Linked DNA regions of Homo sapiens: region 1 is linked to region 2. The links come from fine-mapping of genetic effects on gene expression. A gene starts in region 2. The other region holds a variant in brackets. All regions are shown on one strand. Distances are from middle to middle.

Region 1 (8,343 bases), 570 kb before region 2:
AGGTACAGTTCTTAAAATATGCCTAAGGTCCTCTATTGAATGTATTATTTTGCTCTCCCATTTATTCAAGCCCAGGCAGCATTATATAGTTTTCCCCCTTTGTTTAAGAAAGCTTTCTAGATAACTGCCAAGAATTTCATTTCTTTTTTTCAGAACTTGTATTGTCTAAAAGATTTGAGAAATTTTAATGTGTTATCATAATCTTTAATTAAAATACAATTTTTAATTTTTGTAGTTGGCTTGGACGCCTTTTCTGGCTGCATTCAGTGTGGGTCTACAAGATTGTGATGATACTGAAGTAGCCTCTCTTTGCCTGGAAGGTATAAGATGTGCAATCAGAATTGCATGCATTTTCAGCATTCAGGTAACAGAGAATTTTGTCTTTGTAGCCAGTTTGGAACATTAATTACCTATGCCATTACAATAGTTTAAATTACAATAATTGTTTATGTGTGACATTAAAAACTAATTTCAAGTTTATGATGGAATTTAAATGAATCTTAATGTTTAAGCTTCTGAGAAGCTGTTATAGAAGGGGTAGTTCTATACTGATCTGTCTAAGTTTATCATTATAACTTTGGTTACAGTTTTTTTTCTCTATTGAAGACTATACAGAAAGTTTTCAAGACTTTGAATTCCTATGTTAATTTGAACATCTTGTTTAAACGAATAAAATATCTTGTTGAATCATAGTTTATATACAAGGTTGTATATATTTTATATGATTTCATAACTTAAGCCTAAGAACAGGTTATCTTTAAGACATGTAAATATTGAATACATAATTTTCATGAAAGAAGTCCTTTCTAGTAATTTATATGCTTTGAGGAACTTTTAAAAAAAGAAAAATTCATTCAACATTTAATTATAAATGCTAATGGCTTGCAAAAAGTATAGCGTAGCTGTGGAGAAAATGAGCAAATGTATAAATCATGTTTTTGCTAATCTAGTAATCAAAACAAAAGTGCTTAATGAATTTTTTTTTTTTACTGTGTGAATTCATTGGTTATCACTAAAAATCTCAATTTGACACCACCACTGCCTTTGGATTTTAGAAATGTATGTCGTTTCTGCTTCATGCATCATCTTAAAATGAATGAAAATAAAAAACTTGTGGAATTATATGTAATTCATGACAAGTAAAACTTACTAAACTTACAAGTTACTGAACTTACGAGTTTAGGAGTGGAGGTTTAATAGGCAAAAGAAAGGGAAAGGAGGGCCAGGCATGGTGGCTCAAGCCTGTAATCCCAGCACTTTGGGAGGTCGAGGCGGGCAGATCACGAGATCAGGAGTTCGAGACCAGCCTGGCCAACATGGTGAAACCCCGTCTCTACTAAAGATACAAAAAATTAGCTTGGCATGGTAGTGGGCGCCTGTAATCCCAGCTACTCGGGAGGCTGAGGCAGAAGAATCATGTGAACCTGGGAGGCGGAGGTCGCAGTGAGCCGAGATTGCGCCATTGAACCCCAGCCTGGGCGACAGGGTGAGACTCTGTCTCAAAAATTAATAAATAAATTAAAAAAAAAAAAAACAAAATCTTACTGAACAAGTAAACAGAGTTTGTTGGTGGGGAATTAATCAGTCTGCTCTATTTAGAACTGTGTAAACATACTTTTCTCTTTTTTATAGCTGGAGAGAGATGCATATGTCCAGGCACTAGCAAGATTTACCTTACTCACAGTGAGTTCCGGTATTACTGAAATGAAACAGAAGAACATTGACACAATAAAAACACTTATCACAGTGGCTCATACAGATGGAAATTATTTAGGAAATTCATGGCATGAGGTATAAGCACTTTATTTTCAACTTTGCAATTTGGTTTATAAAATGAGCTAATGCTAAATAGTCCATCATTGACATGCCTAAATGTTAGGGGAGAAAATTAGTACATTTCGAATAAGTACGTTTAGCTTTTTAAAATAATCTATAGTGTAGTCTGTGTTTAAGTCCTGGCTGCATATATTTAAATCTTTTTGAAGATATTTTTAACATGGAATTTAACATTTTTTTCCTTTTTGTAATTAAGATTCTGAAGTGCATCAGTCAGTTGGAGCTGGCACAGCTTATAGGAACTGGAGTGAAACCTCGATACATTTCTGGAACAGTGCGAGGCAGAGAAGGATCTCTTACTGGAACAAAAGATCAGGCTCCTGATGAATTTGTGGGTTTAGGGCTAGGTGAGAATTTTTACAAAGTATCAAAAATTGTTTTTAACTTCCTCATTATAAGTCACTTTATTGTAGTAATGAAATATAATTAGAAGGAGAAGATAAAATGCCTTTTGTCTAACCTTATGAGAAAAAGCAAGATGACTAAGGAACTAAATCTTTTTTGCCTGGTCTGGTTTGCAACATTAAATGACCCTTAGTTTCAGGCTTCTCTCTGGTTGTTGGAGAAGGATACAGTGTGTAGAGTTTTTAAATTACTTGCTTTTAAAAATAAGCAGGTAACTTGAATGTGTGAAAGCTGGTATCAGGTAATAGTTGGGGCAACTGGAGAAAGCATTCACATTTAATTGTTAAAGCAATGAGCAGGCCTAACCAGCCTTTCTGCCAGTATGAAACCTCTCCCCATGGCTCCCCATGCGCTCAATATGACCAGGAACTTCCACATTTAAACCAGTAGAACAAAAGAAAACATTAGCAAAAATGGGTAGAGAAGAATGAAAAGCAATACATTTTTTAGTCATAAATGGAAGGAGTTCCACCAGGGAAGAAACAGAGCTTATTAGACTTTGACCTTAAGTATTTCTGGGTTTGAATTCTTCTGTATTTTTTCCTTATTATGTGTAAGTTACTTTAGTTCGCCGAGATTCAATTTCTGCTTTTGCAAACAAAGTAATATCTAATCATAGGATTGTTAGGATTAAATAAGAATATATATGACTGGACTTAGCATAATGGCTGGTATATTCGAAGTTTCTAGATATTCTCTGTCCATCCCTCCCCAACCCCCCACCTCCAACCAATCTGGACGCATTACTTAGAGCAGGAATCTTCTATCTTTTAGTGATTCCTCTGTTGCTGCTAGCAGTGAAAATTCTTAGAAACCCCAAAAGAATTTCAAACTTTATAAAGGATCCATAGGAAAAGAATTAAAAACCAGGACCATGATATGGCTTCAAGTTGGACTGGGGAAAACTAATTCCCAGTGGTAATCAACTGAAGCAGCTAGCAATGCAGTCTGTCCCTCCATGATAGCATAGATGCTATAGTATTGTAAGGTCTGGGAGGTGCAGGTGTAGACTTGATACCTTGGTGATCTAGCAGTAAGATTTAGAACTACCTGAGCACCTGCACAATGATTAGAAGCCCAACTTTATACATTAGAACTGTAATTACTCCATGGGGTAACATGAGATGCAGATGAAAACTATTTTCAGGCAAGGGAAGTGAATGTGCACTGATTGGCTCAGTAACTTTGAAAAGGCCTAGAGAGTGTGGGAATGCCAAAATAATGACAGGTGTTAATTGCTGGGCCTGAGTTTTGGCAAGTAGGACTACAGAATTAGGTTACACTAAAAATAAAACACCAGTGGGATATCTTCTAGAAGTTTTAGTCAAACGAGAAATAATGATACTTGCTGATAATATTTACTGGTATACTTGAA[AATGAAT/T]TAAAATTAATTCATGTACTGTGCTACTTAGGTTGCAAGGATATGAGATGAACTGTCTTCTCCCTTCAGAAAAAGGGAATTTACAGAAAGATACACACATTGAGGCCTAGAAATGAAAAACAGTTCAGGCTTCCAGACCATTCTCAAGACCAGTAACACTTATTTTATGCCTTATTTAGGTTTTCTCTGTTATGTACTTCTCTTTTTGGTCTGCACCATTCTCTGCTCAGTCCTGACTCCATGCTCCATTTTGAATCCACATCCTAGAAGGAGCTAGTCTGTGGACTTGGCCCCTGTTGGGCAGAGCCCTCCCGTTGGGCCGTCCCGTTGGATAACCAGCCAACCCATGTGGCAAATGGCTACCCTTGTCCCCCTGTGCCTACCAAGGTCAGACAGCAGATGCTTTCTGGAGCAGAATGTTGTCATCAGAATTTAAGCTAGAAGAAGATGTGGTACAGTCAAGCCAGTTTAGTCTGCATATACAGTGGATACATATATATATATATATATATATATATATATATATATATATATATATTTTTTTTTTTTTTTTTAACTAATATCTTTTTTTTTTTTTTTTTTTTTTGAGTCACAGTCTCACTCTGTCACCCAGGCTGGAGTGCGGTGGTGCGATCTCAACTCACTGCAACCTCTGCTTCCTGGGTTCAAGTGATTCCCCTGCCTCAGCCTTTTGAGTAGCTGGGATTACAGGGGTGTGCCACCACACCTAGCTAATTTTTTTTGTTGTTTGTTTGTTTGTTTGTTTGTTTTAGTAGAGACAGGGTTTCACCATGTTGGCCAGGTTGATCTTGAACTCCTGACCTCATGTGATCTGCCCGCCTTGGCGTCCCAAAGTGCTGGGATTACAGGTGTGAGCTACTGCGCCCGCCCATATCCTCTTTTATTAATGGTATCTCTGCCGTGAGTATTCCATGTAACCAAGTTGACCGGGTTGAGTATATATTTATCATACTTTCTGACTGATAGAAAAAAAGTCTGTACTTTCACTTTTTGGAAATACGAAACTTTCAGTTATTAAGAATACATAGTAGATAATTATTAGATTTGAATTATATGCATTCTTTTTTTTCTATTTTTTTAAAGACAAGGTCTCACTCTGTTGTTGAGGCTGGAGTGCAGTGGCATGGTCATAGGTCACTGCAGTCTTGAACTCTTGGGCTCAACTTTTTTTTAAATTAAAGTTACTAAAGTAAAAGCCTGTCCCAGGCTTTCACTATGTTTTTTTCCTATTTCAGTATGTTGCCCGGGCTGGTTTCAAACTCCGGGCTTCAGGTGATCCTCTCACCTCGGCCTCCCAAAATGCTAGGACTAGAGGCACGAGCCATGGCACCTGGACTGCATGCTGGTCTTTCAAGAGATACCTTAACATTTAAAAATTCAATGGCTTTGTCACATAAATGTTCAGAGAGTATTCATGACACATAGTTTAAAAAATCTTATTTAACCTAAATATGCCCTCTCTATTGTGATTGCTTTTCTTTCTGCTTTCTTTTCTACATAACCATCCTTCTAGGTCTAGGTTGAATTAGTATTTCATCATACGTGAAGCCTTTCTTGAGCTAACACCCCTATTCTCTTGTGTTGTGTGCTTTTGAGTAAATTTGTTTGACAAAACTGGAACTCTCATTAAGGGATTTCACATATTTGTGAAATGGGTTCTTTGGATTCCAAGACATTTTTTATATTCTTTGATTCCTTTAAATATTTTATTATTAATGATTTTAAATTATATTTAAATATAAAGGACATATTTTGACACGTGTGTGTGTGTGTATATATATACACACACACACACACATATATATATATATACACACATACACATATTTTTTCCCCACAGAACATATATATATTTCCTCTGTGGAAAGGATATCCTGTTGATACACAAAGGAAGTTATCTTATGATTGGCATTGTTTTTTTCTCATAGGTTTTTCTTTGTAAAATTCCTGTAACATGCTGTGCGTGTCAAGTTTGCCTTGACACTATTTCCCTACCACCCCAATACTGTGTCACTTACTTCAGGCTTTCATTCTTGTTCACTTGTATTATAGCAGTAGACTTTTAGTTTATCTCTCTGATTTCAATATTTTTTCCTATTTCAGTATGTTCTCCAGATATTATCAGTGTTGTCTTTTGGAAAATAGATTAGATCATATCAATCTTCTAAAAGACCTAACGGATCCCTGTTTTCGAAAGTAGTACATTAAACCTAAGGGTCAAGGCTCTTCACATTCTTTTTTCTAGTCTGTCTTTTCAGCTTTATCTCCTACTGCTGTTCTTTTCCCTTCTTCCTGGTGTCTGCCAATCCTTCATTATGGCTATACTACCAAGTATGTGAAAACATGATGTACAGTTGTATGTTTCCATTACTTTATATAGCTGCCCCTCTGTCTCAATTGCTTTTCTTTCTCCTTCCTTTTCTACATAGTTACCCTTCTAGGTCCAGGTTGAATTAATATTTCATCATATGTGAAGCCTTTCTATGAGCTAACACCCTGTTCTTGTCCCTATTGAAATTAGTTCTATTTAGCAAACTTTTATTCTATGTAGTTAGTTCATTTCAGCCATGAAGTAGTCATTACATTGCATTGAAGTTCATTATAAACATATCTGTCTCTCCTGGTGTAAATTATTAACTCTGTGAGGACAGGGGTTACATCTTTTTCACATCATTCAGTTCCTAGAATAGAATTTGAGTTCAGCAGGTTTAAATGATATCATCTGTTATGTTTGCATTCAGAAGGGCATTTATTGAGTGTTTGGTCACTCAGGTCAAGTGTTTGTAGAGCACCTGCTTTGGACTTAATTTTGAGTAAGGTAGGAAAGTACAAAAATGAATATTACTTGATTCCTAACCTTAGGAAACTTTATCTGGTTGTGAAGGCAACATTAACACACCTGAAATAATTTATATGCAACTGTATGAACGTAATTCTGATTTGAGTAGTACTTAGCTAAGTAAATGCTTAGTTCAAAGGCAGATGAGAACAATGGAGAGGAACTTTTCATTGAGAACCCAAATTGAGTCTTGGTAGGTAAGTTTTAGATAGTTGAGGGATGGCACATTTTGGCTAGACTGTTGAAGGGAAGTGCTTTAAATGCTAGGGTAAAGAGTTTATATTTTATCTTGTAAGTAACAGTAAGCAGAATGAAGGAGACGATTTAGGAAATAATCTGGCAGGGGGATGAAAGAGAGATTGAAGAGGGAAATAATTAATGGCAGGGAAATCACTCATGAAATGGTTTCAGTAATCTAGGACTGAGATTATGAGGGCCAGAACTAGGTAGGAATGGAAATGAACAGGTGATATGAAAAACAGATCAGAAGAAAAATTTAGTGACTAGTTGAATATTGATAGTGGAAGAGGGGAAGGATATCAAAGGTGATTCTGAAGTTAAGAATTTGAAGACTGGGAATATTGTTATTCTCCTCTCCAACATGTGGAACCAGTTTCAAGGGAAAAGATGAATGATTCTTTTCAATAAAAGGGTGTTAGAAAATACAGGTAGAATTTTCAACTGACCTTTGTAAATAGGGGACTAGAGATTAAATGACAAGGGAAGTCTAAATTTTTGGAGTTGGGATCATCCTCAGAAGGTATCATTGGAACTGAGATTAGTGCTGCATTTCTTTAAACATTAAGGGAAATTATATCTAATATCTATAATTTTGTGATATAAATTCACAGTGCCCCTACTTTGTGTGATCTTTACAAACATAGTTTGTGACTTATAACCATGTGTTGTATACTACTTAGTAAAGTTCATTTGCACATTTGGCCTTGTTCATGTCACTGATATCAAAAGAATTGTTCACCTGAAGCATTCTGTTATTAGGAAAGCAGTTGATTTCAGAAGTATGTTTTAGAACTTGTTAAGTGTATTCTTCTACTGAATTATTTTCAAACTGAAATGACTTTTTTTTATGTGTGGTAGTTGGAGGAAATGTGGACTGGAAACAGATAGCAAGTATTCAGGAATCCATTGGAGAAACCAGTTCTCAGAGTGTTGTTGTTGCTGTAGATAGGTAAGGTATTCATTTTATTCCCTTTTCAGATGATTACTATTTCAGTTCTTTAGCATTTAGGTGTTGGTAAAAAGAAAAATATTATTGCCAAAATCATTTTTCTAAAGTAATATAAAATTATATTGTGATATGCTGTGATTTAGATGATGAAGTACCTATAATTTTGCTTTTTGGATCATAGAATATAAGAAGATGATAAACAGTATGAAAATTTAAGTTACAATAGATACTAATGGGCATTAAGGAAATGGTAACCTCGATGGAAAAGAATACAAATGTTTTATTTTCTCGTAGAAAACTTATTCCCCTTATTATCCCTATTTGAAAATGTTGTGTAGTTTATTTTTCTGGGTCCACAATATAGACTGCATTATGGATGAAATGAAAGGTTTTATTGGCAATTCCCATTATAAACTTTTTTGGAAAGGACTTCAGAATTTATATATTATACACATCACCACATATTCCCCATTTTTAGTTTGTTTTCTAAAAGAAAACCCATGGTATGCTTTATTTACTACAGAATATTTCCAATTTTAAAATGTCCAGCACATAGAACAATGTCTCCTATTGTTACTTGAAGTTTAGCTTTTTCTAGATAAATGCCCCCAAAAGTGAAACATTTTACAATAATGTTTTTTCTTTTTCTTCCTCCCACCCCCTACTTGTGAT
Region 2 (8,316 bases):
ATCTACCTGTCCTGGCCTCCCAAAGAGCTGAGATTACAGGTGTTAGCCTGGCCTTGCTTTGGTTTTAATCCTGATTATGCTACCTACTAGCAATGAGACACTGAACAAGTTACTTAACCTTTCTGTGCCTCAAGTTCTTCATCTGAAAAATAAGAATGATAGTAATGGTACCTGCTTCATAAGGATATTAAAAGGATTAAGTAAATACTACATGTAAAGACCCTGGTGCACAATAGATGCTAAAAAGGTGTTAATAGCTATTATTATTATTATATAATTTTGGTTTCTTAAAAAAGTACATACTATACACACATAGAAAAAAGGAGCTTGAATGGTCCATTAAAAATGTTAGCAATTATAATCTCTGATAGATAATTTTAATTTTCTTTTTAACCTATTTCTGCACATTCTGACAAGCAATTCCTTTTGTATTATAAACAACAGAAACACAACAAGCCTTCCCCAAAAGTGCCCTACAAGTTTGGTAAGCAGTGATTCTCAAAGTGTGATCCTCGCAAGGACTGGCAGCATCTGCAACCAGAGAACTTGCTAGAAATGTAATTCTCAGGCTCCACCTCAGACACACTCATTCTAAGATGGAGCCCAGCAATCTGTGTTTTAGCAAGCCTTCCAGACTGTGATGCACATTAAAGCTTGAGGACTACTGTGCGAAGGAATGACTTGCAGCTCTGTACTCGGTCATTTGTCTCAAGGGGCCCTGGTGTAAGGTCTTAAAGAGTGGAATACTGGCCACTGCTCAAACACATTCACATTAGAAAAAAAAAAAGGCCGGGGACGGTGGCTCAAGCCTGTAATCCCAGCACTTAGGGAGGCCGAGGCAGGCAGATCACGAGGTCAGGAGATCAAGACCATCCTGGCTAACACGGTGAAACCCCATCTCTACTAAAAATACACACAAAAAAATTAGCCGGGCGTGGTGGCAGGCACCTGTAGTCCCAGCTACTCGGGAGGCGGAGGCAGGAGAATGGCGCGAACACGGGAGGCGGAGCTTGCAGTGAGCCGAGATCGCGCCACTGCACTCCAGCCTGGGAGACAGAGCGAGACTCCATCTCAAAAAAAATAAAGTTAAACTCCTGCTGACCCAACAAAACTACATCAAGCCAAGTTTGGCTACTGGTCACCAGTTTGTATTGACTTCTTGCCTAATTCTCTCTCAAATCAGTAAGCAGCTGTGATGTAGTGGAAAGAGTGAGTGCTGAACAAGGAAAACCTTGATTTGAAGCCCAGCTCTATTTCATAGCTGGTGGTAATAAAAACGATGTTAACCTTTTAGAGTTAAATCTTATCCGTATAAGGACAATACTGTATCACAGGAGTGTTTTAAAGATTAAGATGATATACTCAAAACACTGCCCTATAATAAATTGCCCTCAATTAAATTTTCATAGCATTTGTGATATTTCCTGTATTATTTTGATTACATGCTTTATTCTACTTATATTTATGAACAATTTAGTTTAGCCTCCCTCTTCTATTAAACTCTAAGCTTCTTTGAGACAGAGATGAAATTTTGCATCCCTTTAAATTCTTATAATACCTACTTCAATAATTAGTCCCTCCCAAATCCACTTTGAGCTTCAGTCGAAGCTTGTGACTGGAAGTCTGACTATACGTGGCACGGGTCTGGAAGAACACAGTCAATTCTTGGTAAAGATGTATAGTTTATATAGGCAGGTATGTGGCCAACTTACAGCAATCCCCAAAGTTATGATTCCCTTCCTTATATATATAAAATATAAAAGATCAAGAACAATGATGGTTGTTCTGTTGGTAAAAGTGGATGACTTCTGCATTTACATTTACCAAGTTTGTTAAAAGCAATATAGGGAGTTTACAAGTGCCATACTAGAAACTATGAAAAAGATGAATTTCTATTTTAACTGAATTTTGGCAATTTAGGTATTAGTGATGCTGGGGTGATGGTGGTAGAAGAGACGTGTATCAGCACAGCTAATGTCAGAGGCCCAGCTTATTCTTTTCATCTGGACTACTAAAAACAAGAACTATTATCTACCCCACAAAAATCCTGTGAAAGTTAATTAGGTAGTTAAGTTAATCTTCATTAGGCAAGATCATGGAATTTGGGAGGAAAAGAGGAAGGAAGCCTGCAGATCTTGCATAAGCAGGAGAGGCTTTCTACACTCCTCCGGTCTTATAAGAAACAGTATGTCCTATTTTTGACCTAACAATTTTTTTTCTTTGTAGGTATCCATGCCTTCTAAGTGCTAGTAATAAAGAATTAATTCACATATTAAACTTGACATGGTTAATTTCATTGCCCCTTTATGTTAGCTTTCTTTCTGAACTTTGAGTGCATCTACAAACTTATTAAATGATCTAGACAAGCCAGAAAAAGGCTTCTCATTTCTTCAGTGGGGTGGGAAGTGATTATTTTGTCATAGTATGGTTCAGAATGACATATTCAAATACAATTTTAAAAATCTACTTCACTATGTATATGTATCATCAATAAGAAAAATTTGGCCTGGTGTTGTTAAGATATAAAAGTACCTGACAGTGTTAGAATTGCAGACTGTTGTCATCTCATGTGCTACAAAGCTTTAATTCAATTATTTGGATTCTGTATGAGAAAAACTTTCACTGCAGGTGTAACATTTTCGTCACAGCATAAAATAATCTCCACTTAAAGGAGATACCCAATTTCTCTACTTATAAAGCATTCAACTGTTAATAAAAAATCAGTGCCAAAACCAATCTGTGTAGTTACCACCAAACTTGTTAGAATAAACAACTTTTCTTGCATGAATTCTCTGAGAAAAACTTTATTGAAAAATACCCCCTCCGGCCGGGCACGGTAGCTTGCGCCTGTAATCCCAGCACTTTGGGAGGCCGAGGCGGGCGGATCACCTGAGGTCAGGAGTTCAAGACCTGCCTGACCAACATGGAGAAACCCCGTCTCTACTAAAAATACAAAATTAGCTGGGCGTGGTGGCTCATGCCTGTAATCCCAGCTACTCGGCAGGCTGAGGCAAGAGAATGGTTTGAACCTGGGAGGCGGAGGTTGGGGTGAGCCAAGATGACGCCATTGCACTCCAGCCTGGGCAACAAGAGTGAAACTCTGTCTCAAAAAAAAAAAAAAAAAAAGAAAGAAAAATATCCCAAGATAGGAAAAATCACTTCTCTTGTAATTAAGGTCCATTATGGAGGATTTCTCTTTCAAATATTTATTTTCAAGAAAATTGTAGCAATTAGGTGCACATCAAAACTAATACCCTTTATGGGCCTCTATTTTGCAGATGGTTCATTTCAAAGCATCAAGTTCTACATACATACATACACACACACACACACACACACACACACACACACACACAACCTAATCAGGCGGTTTCCTGGGCAGCTACAGAAGACTCAAATGATCTCATGGACTTCACTAATGTTTCTAGTTGGTGCCAAATGTTTCAGAAATTTTGAGGTAGTCCACTTACCTAAGGTGATACTAAACTTCCAGAAAGCAAGAATTTCCGTAATAAGTGAAAGAGGATGAATGTACAAAAATAATACTAGCTTTCAATTAACATATGAATATTGTTCTGTATGAAGAGGCAGTTTCCTACCCAAGTGAAAAAAGAATAAAGCTGTTGCCTCCTTAACATTAAACATCCCTTCATCACTAAGAGGAGACTCTAAGGCCTAGCAAAAGATTTGAGCCTAACATTTTGGGTTTTTTTTTTTTTTTTGAGACGGAGTCTTGCTCTGTCGCCCAGGCTGGAGTGCAGTGGCGTGATCTCGGCTCACTGCAAGCTCCGCCTCCCGGGTTCACGCCATTCTCCTGCCTCGGCCTCCCAAGTAGCTGGGACTACAGGCGCCCGCCACTACGCCCGGCTAATTTTTTTGTATTTTTAGTAGAGACGGGGTTTCACCATGTTAGCCAGGATGGTCTCGATCTCCTGACTTCGTGATGCATCCGCCTCAGCGTCCCAAAGTGCTGGGACTACAGGCGTGAGCCACCGCGCCCGGCCGGGATTTTTTGGTAAGCAGCAGCGTAAAAATCACTCTCAAGGTTTGAGATTGGGATCCAGCATAACTGGTGACTTGACCTTGGGCAAGTCACTTAATTCCTTTTAGTCTCAGTTTCCCTGATTGTAAATGAAGTCAACACCACCTGGTAAAGGTATTACAGGACTGGTGTGAGGATGAGATGATACATGTGAACATATTATTAAATATGTAAACTATAAGGCAATAGTAAGCAAATGCTAGTTACTATTCTATGTAATACAGGCCTAACCTTTCCTGCCTATGTCCTGATCTGTAAAAAGAAGACAGGTTGAGATCTGAATGTCTATCCACTCACTTATCAGCTGCGTGAACTTTAGCAAGTCATTTCCTTTCTGGGCCTGTTTCCTAAGAAGGTTATTTTTTAAGATCAAATGATATCGTGTTATGCAAATGCTGTCCAGACACATATTAAGAACTTAACACATGATGGCTCTTATTATTCTCTGGGGAGTAGGGTGGTAAAGAGCAAATGAAATTAAACCTAGTTAAGAGAATTTGTATATGCACACAAAACTCTACAGACATCCAAGGTACCGTTATTTGCACTGTAAACTGCCAAAACATGCAGGAAACGAGAAATCAAATGGCGCCTCAGTGATTCGCACTAGAGAGGGGGAGAAGGCAGAGCTTCCGAGAATCAACTGTTTTCCCCCTTATGGCCTCCAGCCTAGATTAGACCATTTATTCAACTTCCCAGCCCCCAATATCCCTGGACATTTATTTACTGTACCTTTTTCACTGAGAGCCTTTCCACTCCCCTCCCCTTCTAGTAGTCGTGAACTTCAGACCCTCGCTTCGACTCCCACTGCCATAACTGTTTTTAACCAAGCTTCCCTGAATCCTCCCCTCCGCCTAAGGAGGAAGTGCAGCTAGACGCACCGCACGGCATCCTAGGAAATGTGGTCTCTCAGACTCTTTGCCTTGGGCTGCAGAGTGGGGAAGACGACGAAGGAGAGCCCAGTAAAACTACAACTACCGGCAGGCAACGCGAGTCACCATCTTTCTTTCGCCCCTTTTCCTGTTGCCGTCCTCTTCCTCCTCTCCTCTAGCGCTGAACCGCTTGGCCTCACGGTACTTGTAGTTCCTTCTGGACTCAAGATCCTAGGGCTTGATGGCCAGCACAGAGGCTGGAAGACTCTAATTCCCAGAGGGCAGAGCGGAAGCTGCGCCTGCGCACACTCAATGAGGGCGTGTATGTCTGTGTCTGAGGGAGAGAGAGCGAGAGTGAGTGAGTGTGAGTGCGGGGTGGGGTGGTGGCCGTTACGTTCGGGGCAACGGCTACGGCAGTGGAGAAGTAAGAAGAGAAACAACGTCCGGCGCTTCCGCCTTCGCTTAGGAGGAGGAAGAGCTGGTAGGGAAAGGAAAGTGCTTCGCCCTGGGCCTGGACTGGACCGAGTCGGGTTGGTGGGGGTCTGGGCTATGAGCTTTTGAGGGTCGCCTGGGACGCGGAGCGAGACACGAGAGCCAGGAGCTATGTCTCAGCCGCCGCCGCCGCCGCCTCCGTTGCCGCCGCCACCTCCTCCCCCTGAGGCTCCACAGACTCCGTCGTCCTTGGCGTCGGCGGCTGCTTCGGGGGGGCTTTTGAAGCGGAGAGACCGGAGAATCCTTTCCGGGAGCTGCCCGGATCCGAAGTGTCAGGCGCGTCTATTTTTCCCGGCCTCCGGTTCTGTCAGCATCGAGTGTACCGAGTGCGGCCAGCGGCACGAGCAGCAACAGCTGCTGGGGGTTGAGGAGGTGACCGACCCGGACGTAGTGCTACACAACCTGCTGCGGAACGCGCTGCTCGGGGTTACGGGGGCACCCAAGAAGAACACGGAACTGGTAAAGGTGATGGGCCTTTCCAACTATCACTGCAAATTGTTGTCGCCCATATTAGCTCGCTATGGAATGGACAAACAGACAGGCCGGGCCAAGCTTCTCCGGGACATGAACCAGGGCGAACTGTTCGATTGCGCCTTACTGGGTGACCGCGCCTTCCTCATAGAACCAGAGCATGTTAACACTGTGGGCTATGGCAAGGACCGCTCCGGAAGCCTCCTGTATTTGCATGACACTCTGGAGGACATTAAGCGGGCCAATAAAAGCCAGGAATGTCTCATTCCAGTGCATGTGGACGGGGATGGACACTGCTTGGTGCATGCTGTGTCTCGGGCTCTAGTAGGCCGAGAGCTCTTCTGGCATGCCTTAAGAGAGAATCTTAAACAGCACTTTCAGCAGCACCTGGCCCGATATCAAGCTCTGTTCCATGACTTCATTGATGCTGCTGAGTGGGAGGACATTATCAATGAGTGTGACCCTCTGTTTGTACCACCTGAGGGTGTTCCCTTGGGCCTGAGGAATATCCACATATTTGGTCTTGCCAATGTGCTACATCGTCCTATTATTCTGTTAGATTCCCTCAGTGGCATGAGAAGCTCTGGTGATTATTCAGCCACCTTTCTACCTGGGCTCATCCCTGCAGAGAAGTGCACTGGGAAAGATGGTCATTTGAACAAACCAATCTGTATTGCATGGAGCAGCTCCGGTAGAAACCATTATATCCCCTTGGTAGGCATAAAAGGGGCTGCTTTGCCCAAACTGCCTATGAATTTGCTTCCTAAAGCATGGGGTGTGCCTCAGGACCTTATTAAAAAGTACATAAAACTTGAAGAGGATGGTGGTTGTGTTATTGGAGGTGACAGAAGTTTGCAAGATAAATACTTACTTAGGCTTGTTGCTGCTATGGAAGAAGTCTTTATGGACAAACATGGTATCCATCCTAGTTTGGTTGCTGATGTCCATCAGTATTTCTACAGAAGGACTGGAGTGATAGGAGTTCAGCCTGAGGAAGTCACAGCAGCTGCTAAAAAAGCAGTAATGGATAATCGCCTTCACAAATGTTTGCTCTGTGGTGCCCTTTCTGAACTTCATGTTCCTCCAGAGTGGTTGGCTCCTGGAGGGAAATTGTATAACCTGGCAAAAAGTACTCATGGACAGCTGAGGACTGACAAAAATTACAGCTTTCCCTTGAACAATTTGGTTTGCTCATATGATTCAGTGAAAGATGTTCTGGTACCAGACTATGGAATGAGTAACCTAACAGCTTGTAATTGGTGCCATGGCACATCTGTGCGAAAGGTCAGAGGAGATGGGTCTATTGTGTATTTGGATGGAGACAGAACTAATTCTAGGTCCACTGGTGGCAAATGTGGTTGTGGATTCAAACACTTTTGGGATGGTAAGGAGTATGACAATCTACCAGAAGCTTTCCCTATTACTTTAGAATGGGGTGGAAGAGTGGTCAGAGAAACAGTATATTGGTTCCAGTATGAAAGTGATTCATCTTTGAATAGTAATGTTTACGATGTTGCAATGAAACTTGTTACCAAGCACTTTCCAGGTGAATTTGGGAGTGAAATCCTAGTTCAGAAAGTTGTCCACACTATATTGCATCAGACTGCCAAAAAGAATCCCGATGATTATACTCCTGTAAATATAGATGGTGCTCACGCCCAAAGAGTTGGAGATGTTCAAGGACAAGAATCAGAGTCTCAGCTCCCAACTAAAATTATTCTTACTGGACAGAAAACAAAAACTTTGCACAAGGAGGAGTTAAACATGAGTAAAACTGAAAGAACTATTCAACAGAATATTACGGAACAGGCTTCTGTAATGCAGAAACGGAAAACAGAGAAGTTAAAACAAGAACAAAAAGGGCAACCCAGGACTGTTTCTCCCAGTACCATTCGTGATGGTCCATCCTCTGCACCTGCTACACCTACCAAGGCTCCCTATTCACCGACAACTTCTAAGGAGAAGAAGATCCGAATCACAACTAATGATGGACGACAGTCCATGGTTACCCTTAAGTCTTCAACAACCTTTTTTGAACTTCAGGAAAGTATAGCCAGAGAATTCAACATTCCTCCATATTTACAGTGTATTCGATACGGGTTTCCTCCTAAAGAGTTAATGCCACCACAGGCAGGAATGGAAAAGGAACCAGTTCCTTTACAGCATGGCGACAGAATTACAATAGAAATTCTAAAAAGTAAAGCTGAAGGTGGTCAGTCTGCTGCAGCACACTCAGCCCACACTGTGAAACAAGAAGATATTGCTGTTACTGGTAAACTGTCATCTAAGGAACTTCAGGAGCAAGCTGAAAAAGAAATGTACTCCTTGTGTCTTTTAGCAACATTAATGGGTAAGATGAATTTAATTCTGATGGTATATCTTAATTGTAAATATAATACACTGAGTTTTCCTGTTATCTTTGGGGGAAAAGAAATCTGT

What was found.
Region 1: its variant is fine-mapped to the expression of VCPIP1 in whole blood (INTERVAL, PIP above 0.99).

Annotation. Positions count from the first base shown.
Region 1 is chr8:67,232,183-67,240,525 of GRCh38, reverse strand. It overlaps ARFGEF1 (ARF guanine nucleotide exchange factor 1), which reads left to right. Exons shown (of 39, transcript NM_006421.5): 20 at 236-364; 21 at 1,633-1,791; 22 at 2,033-2,183; 23 at 7,581-7,671. Among named protein-coding and RNA genes, the nearest start is that of ARFGEF1, 110 kb to the left of the region's middle. The variant AATGAAT/T (reference allele first, on the strand shown) is at 3,617.
Region 2 is chr8:66,664,160-66,672,475 of GRCh38, reverse strand. VCPIP1 (valosin containing protein interacting protein 1) reads left to right here and starts at 5,245. Exons shown (of 3, transcript NM_025054.5): 1 at 5,245-8,227. The coding sequence starts at 5,518. It overlaps C8orf44-SGK3 (C8orf44-SGK3 readthrough), which reads right to left and starts at 4,880. Exons shown (of 19, transcript NM_001204173.2): 1 at 4,775-4,880. It overlaps C8orf44 (chromosome 8 putative open reading frame 44), which reads right to left and starts at 4,880. Exons shown (of 2, transcript NR_161217.1): 1 at 4,775-4,880. RefSeq lists enhancers at 4,648-5,157, 5,528-6,047, 6,298-6,357.